Homo sapiens: one gene and its partner. The protein of the gene in region 1 interacts with the protein of each later gene in a pairwise test. Each region holds a gene or a part of one and is shown on either strand. Other genes may lie near its edges.

Region 1 (7,746 bases):
ACAAGCCCAGACTAGTTGTTACAGCTGTTAGATGGGAGGGGACAATAACAATCATATCGAATTAAACATTCGTATTGCATTTTGCTAGGCCCTGTTCTGAGTGCCTTATGTATATTAATCCATTTAATTCTCAGATTAACATGATGAAGTAGGTAATATCATTATCCTATTTTTTTTAAACAAAGAAGCAGAACACAGAGATGTCCAGGACTCACGTGGGGACTAAGTGGTAGTCAGGATTCAAACCCAGGGCTCTGGTTCCAGTCTGTACTCTTAACTACTGCATAGTATGATTTTTTTTAAAGTCCTATTTCTGACACTTGCTTTTCAAAATGAAGATAAAACAAAGCAACCTCACCATGGAATCAGACCTTCAACTTAAAGAAAGATGCTCAGCGAGTTTGGCCTGCTGTGTCTCCACCTGCCAGCCCTCATCTGCACATCAGAACATTTCTCAACTTTTGCCATCCAGCCATAGGTTCACAATTAGTTAAATATTAATCATGACAAACAGAGACTCCTTTCTGTAGCCCCTCGATTCCAGTTTTGCTTTCTCTCCAGTGTTCAGACATCGTTAGCATTAAACCAACTCTGTGGGGGACCATGAGCGCCCAGGAAAGTAAAAAGACCTCACCAAGTCACACACAAAGTCAGAGGTACTGCCCGGGGGCCTAGATCTTCCTGCCACTAGAAACGACGTATGACTTAATCAAAGGAGATCGACAATTCTGATGTGACGTAAGGATCAATTCATTTAGTCATGGAGTATCACACACAGGCACACGCAAATACACACAAACGCACCATTATCACCAAACCAAAAAAAAAAAAGAAAATCACAAAACTATGTGCAAAATCTTCAACAAGTGATACAGTCCCCCAAAGTCTAACTACAAACTAGAATGCCAACGAAGCAGATTTCCTGGGATTCCAGCTATGATAAAACCCATTTCAGTGAGGCTCCTGCCTCTCTCCCTGTGTGTAGGGTTGTTGGATGCAGTAAGGGAATCTTGAAAGTGCAAAAGCTGCCAACACATCCAAGGATAAGTTGCATTTGATTCTACTGTAGTCAAAGGCATTTACCAAGGGACAGCAGCCCCTCTACCCACAACATGTACCTCTACAAACCTTTACTCCTTCCTTCTTAATTAGCACCTGAACTGGGGGTTCTGGTGGAGGAAAGAGCAGCACCCACTTGCCCTTCCAATCTTTCCCTTCCACTTGACCCAGGCTTAGTGTCTGAGTTCTATTTCCCTGCAGCCAGCTGCAGCGGGCAGCACATTGAACAGCCTCCGCTGCAGACTGCAGGCAGAAAAAGGGTAGGGTTTTCCTGATGTGGAAATCACTGCTGCTGTCCAACGCTGCAGTTGGATGGGAGACGTGAGGCTGCTGCCATAGGGGAAGGGCCTTTGCTGAAAGATGCAAACCACAATCCATTTCCAGAGATGCTTGTTAGAGGCTGTGCCATTGTCTGTGCTTTGGGCTTCAGATATTTGAAATATCCATGTAAACACATGAACACATGGCTGTGGATATCCTCTGATAAACACGCAAGAGCAAATGCCGGGGTGGGGGTGGAGGGTGGACACCTATTAAAGGCATACACACCCCTAACTGTAGGAGGAGAAAAATAATAAACCCCCAAGGAGACTGAAGATTGGCTCAGAAAATCTATACACTGGGGGCCCAGTGTTTTCTGGCTTTGAGAAGCGCCTGGCTCAGGAGGTGACTGGAGGGGCCTGAGGGCTGTGGAGAGGAAGGGACCCTGTCAGGAGCTGAGTAATGTTAGAGCATGACGACTAGGGCAGGAACCCAGGAGGAGGAAGGGGAGGAGGCAGGGCACAGCCAAACATTGGAGCAGAGTCCAAAGGTTTGAGGGGCCAGAGGTGAAAGGCAGGAGGGGGCACGGGTTCAGGGTGACTTCAGGCTCTCTTCAGCCTCACAGCCTGCCTTTATCCAAAATCTAACAAGGTCTCCTCCCTGTCCCAATACGTCCCCCTGGAGGAGAGGTCTGAGCCTGTACCATGGGCGGACAAACAAGCGTTTTGTCAGTAACCCTAATAAGCAAGGGTCAAACGGTCATCTCAACAGCAGTCTCACAACCCACTCCCAAGAACTCACAACAAAACCATGAGGGTGCACAGGGAGATGACAGAGGCCGCCGAGGCCATCACCCACCCACCCCCCACAACCTGTGTGCGAGTGTGTGTGTGTGTGTGTGTGTGTGTGTGTGTGGAGGGCCAAGGCACGCACCTGTCAGGAGACAGGTATCTGTTAACTACCGCATAACCATACCTAGGTAGTGGGCAGGCACTAAAGGATACCGGGCAGGGAACTAAGGAGCGGACTGTCCCCAGGGGTTGTTATCTCCTTATGTTCGGGGCTCCCCTGGAGCCAAAGAGTGTAATGGCCCCTCTCTCCCTGCCCCAGGGCCCTCCCAGTCCTTCGCCCCCAGACTGCGGTCTCCCCGCACGCCCCTCCCCTGCCTTCACACTTACTAGTGCAGCGCAGCGCCTGCCGCAGCACCTCTCGTCCGCACAGGTCACACCAGCCGGGGCCGCCCGGCAGCACCAACTCGGCGAAGCAGTGCCCCTCGCCTCGCTCCGCCGGGACTCTGGGATCCTGCGGCTGCTCGAAGATGCTCCGCACGTCGCGGGGTCGGGGCGCTCCAGGCCGCCGCCGCAGTCTCTGCTGCAGACCAGGCCGGAGCGGGCGAGCGGGTCGGGAGGCCCGGGGCGGGGGCTCCAGGTTCCCCCGGGCAGCCCTCCGGGCGCTGCGCCCCTCGCGCGCCCCGGGCGCAGTGGAGAGGGGCGCCGGGACACAGAGGCGCGAGGACCGGTCGGGGGGCGGCGGCGGTAGCTCGGGGCCGCTCAGGCTCTGTAGATAGCGCGGCGGCTCGGGGTCCAATAGTAGCGGGTACGGGCGCTGCCCGATGGCCGGGGACGCCATGGCCATGCCCGGCTAGTGGCGGCAGCTTTGGCAGCGGCGGCTTTGGCGACTGCGCTACTCCCGAGCCAGCCCCGAGAGAAGGGGCCGCCCCACACCAGCGCGCCTTTAAAGGAACCGCAGCCTGCTGGGCGGGGCGGGGGCGGGGAGAGTCGGAGTGGCAGGAAGGACGACCCAAGAGAACCGCCGACGGACCGAAGGGGGTAGGGTCCGTGCCAGGCGACGTCTGCGCGAGTGTGGATTTGGGGGCGTCTTCACCTGGAGCAGCTGCAGGATTCCGCAGAGGAGCGCCTCTGTACAGTACAGCTCAGAGGGCGCATTTCTGCGGGGGGCCCTAGGCCTTCAGCCCTGCCTCTTTCCCTTGCCAATCACTTTCCCCAACACCAGGTTCACCCCCGACCCGCACCCTCACGCGCCCCGGGAGGGAGCAGGTCGGAGGGAAAAGCTTGGGAACTGGCTCGATGGGGTCTGAGTAGGGCCCCTCCGTCTAGGCGTCCGCTCGCCACTCTCCCGCTGATGGTGCCGACAGGAGGGCCGTGCTCCTTGGCCCTTCCTCTCTCCGGCTTGTCGCCGCCCGCCGCCCCCTCTAGAGCGGAGCTCGACGCGGGTCCGGAATGCCCCGCGCGCGCTCCCGCAGCCGCGCTTTGTCCCGTGGGTGACCGCCGGATGCCTCCAAGGGCTGGCAGAGCTGTCCGCGTGCGACTTTCGCTCTGGTTGGATTTCCCCTTCCTTCGCAGCCCTGCCGGGTAGGGTATTCCTCTTTCCTGGAAGACTGGTGGGGGGTGGAGGGGAGTTGGGGGGGCTCCATTGAGAGAACGCTCCCTCGCCCCAAGGGTTGGGGGAGCTTTTCTTCCTTAGCCAACCCTCCGTTCCCCAGAGCTGCTCTAGTAATTACTGTGGAGATACCAGTTCCCCTAAATGCCCTAAGTGGAACCTGGTATGGATGGTTCACTCATGGGACCCAAAGAGAGATCTCCTTTCTCCCGGCACTTTCCCCCGTGAAGGCTTGCTTCAAGCCTTCATGGACCCTTGTCTGGTTTAACGCTCTGCGGTCACCATCTTGAAAGTCTTACTTTTTGAACAAAGGGCCAGGCGTTTTCTTTTTGCACTGGTTCCCACAAATTATGTAGTTGTTCCTGACAGGCACCTTTGCCCATGGAAACAGGCCCATCTTATGGATAAGGAGGACTCCTGGATCTCTGAACCTGGGCCTGGGCCCTGGCCCTCTCTAGCCCCAGTATTGTTAACTGTACATTGGGCTGGAGGTGGGGAGACAGGTGGTTGTTAACGTGGCACTCTCCAGCTCCGTCATTATGACTCAGTGATCACAGCTTTCCTCTTAAAACACAGGTTCGGTTTGGTCCGTCTAGCGGTGGTCATTTTTTAGAAGAATAGTCTAAATTCTTCTGGACCTGGTCTCTCCCTTCTCTTCCCAGGCCAGAGATGGGTCTCCCCCTAGTGCTTCGTAGGGGAATCTTCACTTTTGCTTTTTGTTTTTCCCTTGGAGGTAATTTTTAGGTAATTCCTAAGATTTCCAGAGTCCAGTGGCCAGGGAATTCCCAGCCAGCTTTGCTCCATGGCTTCTCCCTCACGGTAATCATAGTCCTCTGCCTCCCAAATCTGTAGCAGAAGAGAGGTTCCTGGGGCTCTGGGGGCTCACCAGAGGCGGGAGCTCACCCTATGAGGTGGTTTCTGAGGAATGACCCATGGGACAGTCAACCCCACAGTGCTACCAAACAGAGGAGCTCCGATGAGGGGTGTAAGCCACAGGCCACCGCCTCTGCCCCACCCCTCCTCTACCTTTCCTCTTCCCTCTCCTAACCTTGCTTTTGCTACATCAGTGGTTTTCAAACCTTGGTATGCATCACAGTCATCTGGAGGGCTTGTTAAGATTATTGGGCTTCATCCCCAAAGTTTCAGAATCTATAGGTCTGGGGCTGGGGTTTGAGATGGCTCATTTTGAGCAAGTTCCCAGGTGTTGATGCTATTGATCCAGGGACCCAACTTGGAAAACCATTGCTCTAGGTCTGAGGTGGTGATTCTGAGAATGGGCTTCTCTGTTCCTTCTCCCCAGGACAAGTGTACTTCAGTGGACCTGACAGATAAAAGCCCAATGAGGGCTATTCCTGAATACTTTCTGCTGAAGGTGTAAAAGGGAAAATACAATTTGCCCTTGTGGTCTCTTATTTTAATCTCCCACTTTTTCTGCAAGCAGTTCTCTTGGGGTTGTTGCAGAAATCTGTATTCCATATAAATATTTGCTGTGTCCACACTCTGTTACCCATCTCCACACACTTGAGACTCATCCCCTTCCTGGAGTGCAGTGGGTGGGTGAGGTCCTGGGCATGGAAACAGCTTGAGCTCTGAGTGACAGCCTGGTGGGGCAAGAAGCAGCAGGGATCTGACAACAAGTGCATCCCTGGAAGATCGGCTTTGAAAAGCCATTTGTGAAATAATTGCTAACAGTCTCCATCTCTGTCCTTCCCTGCAGCCTCAAAGCATGGTTTGGGCAGCCCAGCCCAGATTTCCTGGATAGAGAGACTCATGAGGAGGAGCGTCATCTCTGGCCACGGGAAACTGAGGGCTATCTGAAACCATCAGGCATAAAACTCTTCCCCAGTTGTCTGGGCTGTACAGAAAAATGCTCTAGTTTTTGTTTTCCTCCTGCAGCTCTGATTTGGTGGAGTGGCAGTGGCTGCTCTTAGCATGAATGTGGGAGGAGATTGTGCAGGGCCAGAGCCCTATATTTGGCTTCTGGGGTGGGAAAAGAGATGAAAATGGAGATATTAATCATATAACTCCATGTAACCAATCAAAAAATTTATCATAAAGTTTATCTTAAAGTTCATCTCCTTGAGCCAAGAAATTAGAGTTGGGGCGGGCAGTTGCCCTTCTTAACCTCAATGTGAGGCTCCCTGGCTGGGGCATGTCTCCTCTGATGCCAGTTTTCCCAGCCCAGTCCCCTTCTTCCTTGAAATAGCATTTCCCCACCAACCCACGACACACACATAGACTTCTTTCTTGCTCCCATGCACACACACACACACACACACACACACACACACCCCACATGAACAGCAGAGTATTCCTTCTTCCCCAGGGAAGAAGTGCTAAAGAAACTCTAGTCTCATTATAAGCTCAGGACATTGCTGGGGTAGTGTCAGATGCCTGGACTTTAACATTTTTTTTGATCTGTCTGGTCATCCAGGCTACAAGGGTAAGACCGCAGCATCCGCTGAAACACCTCCACTGGGAGATCTTTCCCCTTGTTAGTAGATCCTCTTGGCTCAGACCCATTGACTTTTTTCTGTTTGTGACTCACTCCCAGCAGAGTGGGTGTGCTGCTTTTATTTTTGACCAAGGGGAAGGATTATGACAGTGAGTTTAGAGTGTGTGGTCAGGGTGTGAGATCACTTCAGAGGTGGTCCCAGAGCGTGCTGGTTTTCCCATTGGGTGAGTTGTTTAACTGCTGCCGCCCAGCCTCCCTCCCCAAGTTCCCTAGTAAGAAGGAAAACGGAAGGACAGAACATGGCCTGACTTCCTGAAGGGGACATTTTTGGTTTTGTTTGACTTTGAGGCGTCTGAAGTCGCCTGAAATCCCCGAAGCTTTCAGGGAACTCCCAGGGATTCTGACAGTTGCACAACTGTCTACATGGAATCACTGTAAGAGTCAGGACAAGTTAGGTTATGCTGTAGTAATAAGCTCCACAGCTGAGTGCCCTGAAATAACAGACTCCTTTCTCGCTCACATTACATGCCTTTTGCAGGTTGGCAGGTGCTCTCTTCTCATCAGACTCACCATGTCTAATATTGCCAGTCACTGTGCCAAAGGGAGATTGAGAGAGCCTGGAGGATCCCACATCAGCATTTAAAAGCTCCAGTCACTTTTGCTCACAGCTTATTGGCCAGAACTAGTCATATGACCCCACTCTACAAACAGGAGCAGATGTAAAATTCTACCTTGTGCTCAGAAGGGGAAAGGGCTGGAAATATTTGGCAATCAGCGCTAATGGCCAGTGCAATCTTCAAGGGCATAGAGCAGTTATTCATTCATTTAATGAGTAATTCTCTGATATCCACTATGTATCAAGCACTGTTCTAGGCACTAAAGGTACAACAGTGAAATGGATATGTTCATGAAGCTTGCATTTAGTGAAAGAGCCAGACAATAAACAGACACAAGAGTAATATGATATCAGGTTGTAAGCACTTTGATGAAAAATCAAGCACATTAAGGGGATGAAGGTGATAGAGGCTACTCTATTAGATTGAGTAGTCAGGAAAGACCTTTCTGAGGAGCAGACATTTAAGCAGATCTGAATGAAGCAAGCCCTTTGTCAATCTGGACAAGAGTGTCCCAGACTAAGAGAACAACAGGCACAACAGCCCCAAAAACTTTTCAAGCTTTATGAACCTGAGTTTGTTCAAAATGCCTATTCTGGGACCTGACCCTCTGATTCAGTATGTCTGGATTTTGGCCGGGATTTTGCAAGAGACTTTGATTCAGATGGCTCACAGACTACACTTTAAAAATGGGGTTACAGCAGTAAATAGTTAAAATGGTGTGACCCCCTCCACAGACATTTGGAAAAAAATGCCCTTATCTTGGTTAGCTATGAAACACAGGTCTCCAGTGCTGCTTCCTTTCCTTCTTGGGCAGCATGTTGCATGCAGAGCTCAGCTTTCCAAAGAAGTGAGTGCTGCTTGCAATGTGTGATGGGGGTCAGTAATATTTTACATTACTAGACTGAGAGCAGGGACCATGACAAAATGTTGTTGGAGGATCAAAATGTGTTTGTG
Region 2 (5,574 bases), on another chromosome or scaffold:
AGCTACTTGGGAGGCTGAGGCGGGAGGATCTCTTGAGCCCAGGAGGCAGAAGTTGCAGTGAGATGTGATTGTGCCACTGCACTCCAGCCTTGATGACAGAGTGAGACTCTGTCTCAAAAAAGAGAAGAGACACCCTAGATCTCCATCCTTCTCTCTCTCTACCATGTGAGGATGATGGGAAGGCAGCCCTCTGCAAGCCAGGAGGAGAGCCTCAGCAGAAACCGTCCTAGTACCCCTGATCTCGGACTTTCAGCCTCCAGGACTCTGAAAACAGATTTTTGTTGGTTAAGCCAGAAAAGGAAAAAGGAAAAAAATCTTGTAAAAAGGCACTTCAGTACTCTACAAAATTATTTCAAAGGACAGTTACAAATGCAACCATATTCAGCAACAGCATTCCATAAAAATGTCTAATGTTTCTAAGCAACTAAAACTACCTTTTCCTGTTAGGAAGATGCTATAAATATGAAGAAAATCTGATATTTTAAAAGTTAAATAGCAACAAAATTTCAGCAAGTGTTTTAGAATTTTTCCATTTATTATCAAGAAAAAAATCACTATATACAAAGATATTGCAAATGTAATAAAATATTCTGTATAATAAACAGCATTTTGGCATTTTAAAAACAACTGTATCTTGATACTAAACTTAACATTAAATAATTGAACAGTACCTGAGAACTTTAAAAAAATCACTTTCATCAGTGCCTCCAAATTCATTTCAGTCATTAAGCATCTACAAATACTCAGTCAAAAAAAATAGGATTTTGGTATTCTGCTGGGATCTACATTCATCACAGCCAAAGGTATTTTAAGTACATACTTTTAAAACAGAAATCACTTCTAAAGGGTTCACCTGGTCAAAAACCATACATTTAAGAACGCTGGTTACCCAAAAGCTTTGTGTTTTCCTTGCCACATCATCTTAAAGCTACTTGAACTGTGAGACAGTGACCAACATTATTAGCTAATTACCCAGTAAAAATTGAGTGTATCACCAATGAAGTCTCATTAAATTCAGTTCCACAAATGGATCCTCAAATATTCCAACCTTATCTATATTTTATTACATCTTATGGAAAACTATGTTTGATTAGATAATAAAGTTTAAGAGGAAAAATGGGCAAGATGAATGTTTGATACTTTTACCAAAAATTTATATTTCATTTACTTGCTGATTTCCCTGAAAACTCAATTTGTTGAAGAAGCAACATGCTGTACTAATTACTGTGTATTACTATTCACACACAAGTGTTTAATGAATTTTACTTGTAATTCTTTAAATTTTTGAAAGTCCAATAGTAAACTAAAGTTGTGGAAACAACTGATAAGAATATTAGAGGATAATAAATTCTACATCTTTAAATAGGTAAGTACTAGCTGGTGGTATTTTCCTAAAGCCACAGACATTTAGAATAAATAGAGTGATTACTTTTGAAAACTTTGATCTGTATTTTGTTTATTAATAGGGCATGAGTGGTTTTGTCTGTGCTTTTTGCATGCATGAAAAACATTACAGACATGATTACTTTCAAGATTCAATCCTACCCACTGTTAACTTTGTGCTTAACTAAACTCTGCTAAGATGTATTAGTTAAAATATTAATTTGACTACGTCTTAGGCAAAAAAAAGGCATAAAACTAGATACAGACAACCCATACATTTATCTCTGATTAGTCACCTATTTCTGGGCTTATAATAAATGATAAGCCAAAAGAAGGCTCTCCAAAGCTGGGCAATAACTAGTTAATGCTAATGAGAAGTCCATCTCAGGTTTCTTACTAAAGAACCTAATCCATAATGATTTTTCTCACTCTGCTGTGTATTAGATAACTAGAAGGAGTATCTAAATTAAAGATTAATCCGGGACATAGGATATACAGATATTGGTTTATTAACAATATTTGATTCGCACTATATAATTTACAGTGTTTCTTCTTATGTACCATTTTATTTAGTACAACACAACCTGTTAGGTAGCAGGCTGGGTATTACCTGAGTAAAAAGTCCCTATTCTTTCCATTTCTCCATGCTATTTAAAAGCATGTGGTGATCCTTCAATAAATTAAAGATATAACAAATTATTTGATGCCATTAGGCGGCCTGGATCACCAATTCTAAGTCTTTTTTTTTTTTGAGACAGGGTCTTGCCCAGGCTGGAGTGCAGTGGCGTAATCACTGCTCACTACAGACTCAACCTCCTGGGTTCAAGGGATCCTCCCACCTCAGCCTCCCTAATAGCTGGGACCACAGGCACATGTCACCATGCCTGGCTTTCTTTTTCTTATTTATTTATTTATTTATTTTTTATTATACTTTAAGCTTTAGGGTACATGTGCACATTGTGCAGGTTACTTACATATGTATACATGTGCCATGCTGGTGCACTGCACCCACTAACTCGTCATCTAGCATTAGGTATATCTCCCAATGCTATCCCTCCCCCCTCCCCCCACCCCACAACAGTCCCCAGTGTGATATTCCCCTTCCTGTGTCCATGTGTTCTCATTGTTCAATTCCCACCTATGAGTGAGAATATGTGGTGTTTGGTTTCTTGTTCTTGCGATAGTTTACTGAGAATGATGTTTTCCAATTTCATCCATGTCCCTACAAAGGACATGAATTCATCATTTTTTATGGCTGCATAGTATTCCATGGTGTATATGTGCCACATTTTCTTAATCCAGTCTATCATTGTTGGACATTTGGGTTGGTTCCAAGTCTTTGCTATTGTGAATAATGCCGCAATAAACATACGTGTGCATGTGTCTTTATAGCAGCATGATTTATAGTCCTTTGGGTATATACCCAGTAATGGGATGGCTGGGTCAAACGGTATTTCCAGTTCTACATCCCTGAGGAATCGCCACACTGACTTCCACAATGGTTGAACTAGTTTACAGTCCCACCAACAGTGTAAAAGTGTTCCTATTTCTCCACATCCTCTCCAGCACCTGTTGTCTCCTGACTTTTTAATGATTGCCATTCTAACTGGTGTGAGATGGTATCTCATTGTGGTTTTGATTTGCATTTCTCTGATGGCCAGTCATGATGAGCATTTTTTCATGTGTTTTTTGGCTGCATAAATGTCTTCTTTTGAGAAGTGTCTGTTCATGTCCTTCGCCCACTTTTTGATGGGGTTGTTTTTTTCTTGTAAATTTGTTTGAGTTCATTGTAGATTCTGGATATTAGCCCTTTGTCAGATAAGTAGGTTGCGAAAATTTTCTCCCATTTTGTAGGTTGCCTGTTCACTCTGATGGTAGTTTCTTTTGCTGTGCAGCAGCTCTTTAGTTTAATTAGATCCCATTTGTCAATTTTGGCTTTTGTTGCCATTGCTTTTGGTGTTTTAGACATGAAGTCCTTGCCCATGCCTATGTCCTGAATGGTAATGCCTAGGTTTTCTTCTAGGGTTTTTATGGTTTTAGGTCTAACGTTTAAGTCTTTAATCCATCTTGAATTGATTTTTGTATAAGGTGTAAGGAAGGGATCCAGTTTCAGCTTTCTACATATGGCTAGCCAGTTTTCCCAGCACCATTTATTAAATAGGGAATCCTTTCCCCATTGCTTGTTTTTCTCAGGTTTGTCAAAGATCAGATAGTTGTAGATATGCGGCGTTATTTCTGAGGGCTCTGTTCTGTTCCAGTGATCTATATCTCTGTTTTGGTACCAGTACCATGCTGTTTTGGTTACTGTAGCCTTGTAGTATAGTTTGAAGTCAGGTAGTGTGATGCCTCCAGCTTTGTTCTTTTGGCTTAGGATTGACTTGGCGATATGGGCTCTTTTTTGGTTCCATATGAACTTTAAAGTAGTTTTTTCCAATTCTGTGAAGAAAGGCATTGGTAGCTTGATGGGGATGGCACTGAATCTGTAAATTACCTTGGGCAGTATGGCCATTTTCACGATATTGATTCTTCCTACCCATGAGCATGGAATGTTCTTCCATTTGGTTGTATCCTCTTTTTTTTTTTTTTTTTGCAGAGACAGGTTTTCCTTATATTACCCAGGCTAGTCTTGAACTCCTGGGCTCAAGCAATCCCCCTACCTCGGCCTCCCAAAGTGCTGGGATTACAGGCGTGATCCATCCACCATGCCAGTGCCCTGCTCCATGTCTCTCTTAACATGGAAACCATCATGAGTTTTCCTGAAGTATTAGGTTAGACGTTGACAACCCAGCTGTTTCTGTTCACTATGGTTGTGAGAAGCCCAGTTATTTAAAAGGCCATTAAGATTGAAAATAGATTTAGAGGTGTAGGTACAGACTGGGAAGGGGCATGAAGGAAATTTCAGGGGTGCTGGAAATGTCCTAAACATGGTGGTGACATGGGTGTTAACATACATAAAAATTAATTAAGCTGTACATTTAAAATTAGTCCCCTTTATGCATTTTACTCTACATGTGTTATCCTTGCAAAGAAAAAGACTGACATCTTTGAGAGCAAGAGTTTTTGTCTTATTCACCTCTGTATAATTTCCAACATCGTGCTTTGCACATTGGACATTCAAAAAATGTTATACAAGATTGACTGCATCAATACTGGAGTGTTGTGTGAGGGTTAGGTGCTGAGGCTGAGAAGTGTATGAGGGAGACCTGAGATTAAACCTGCCACATAAAGTGGAGAGAAGTAGCAAGGTCAGGGCTATGAAATAATCCCAAAAACTTTAGAATTTCTACATAATACAGTTGACACTACTATTCTCAATAGAGCTGCTTTCAGTCTCAAAGGGCTGTGGTATGTGTGCGTGTGTGTGTGGTAAAAAAGGGAAGCAGCAGGTCAAGGAAGAGAAGTGTTATTTCACAAGACTTAAGTAATCTTGTCATTGCTGCTTTTCCTGCCAGAAAATCATTACCTTTCCCTTTAAAAATCATTTCCATATACATTTTACTAACTCCCATGTCAATTTCACCCTTCCTTTTCTAATAATAGCTACTATTTATTCAGCACCAACTAGTATACTAGGGACTATGCTGGGTGCTGGAGTCCCAATGACGAAAGAGACAAACACTTAAATAAGAGGATGTCCGTAATACAGGCATGTACAAAGCTTCACCTCAAGTAAGGAGGCAGGACCAACCTTCATACAGAAGCCCAGCCTTCAAGGATGAGTGTTCTAGTTCCAGAAGAGCAGAGGCAGAGTGGGTAACATGCTAAAGGTATGGAGGCCTGAGAGAATTGTTTTTTTTCAAGGAATGCTAGCTATGTAATAAGGAATAGGGAGAACATGGTATTTTAACTGGAACATATGGAAAAGATTATTACTAGGGAAAAAAGAATGAAGGCCTTTACTAAGAAGGCAGCAGGAATTAAGAAGGGACATATTCAAGAGGAGACAAGCTCAAAAGGACTTGATGATTAAGTATGAGTGTGATGGAGAAAAAGAATACAATACTTTGAGGTTCCTAGTAAGTATCTTGGGTGGCGTGGTAAATGGTAATGCCATTATGGAAGGTAAAGAAGAGAGCGAGCCAGTTTATCAGGACATTCAGGTAGCATGAAAGAAAACTGAACCTGTGGGCTCTGATAAGATCATCGGAGGGCGGGTAGGGGGAAATAGCACCAACTGAGGGGAGGGGTCAA

The links. Proteins that work in one complex are often made in the same cells at the same time.
Region 2: the proteins of RASSF5 (region 1) and REL interact in binary tests that used the Homo sapiens proteins (3 or more experiments, as listed by UniProt).

The regions. Positions count from the first base shown.
Region 1 is NC_000001.11:206,502,812-206,510,557, reverse strand, and holds the start of RASSF5 (ras association domain-containing protein 5), read right to left. Parts: upstream 3,028-7,746; 5' UTR 2,956-3,027; coding exon 2,499-2,955; intron 1-2,498. UniProt on the Homo sapiens protein: Potential tumor suppressor. Seems to be involved in lymphocyte adhesion by linking RAP1A activation upon T-cell receptor or chemokine stimulation to integrin activation.
Region 2 is NC_000002.12:60,926,553-60,932,126, reverse strand, and holds the end of REL (proto-oncogene c-Rel), read right to left. Parts: 3' UTR 515-5,574; downstream 1-514. UniProt on the Homo sapiens protein: Proto-oncogene that may play a role in differentiation and lymphopoiesis.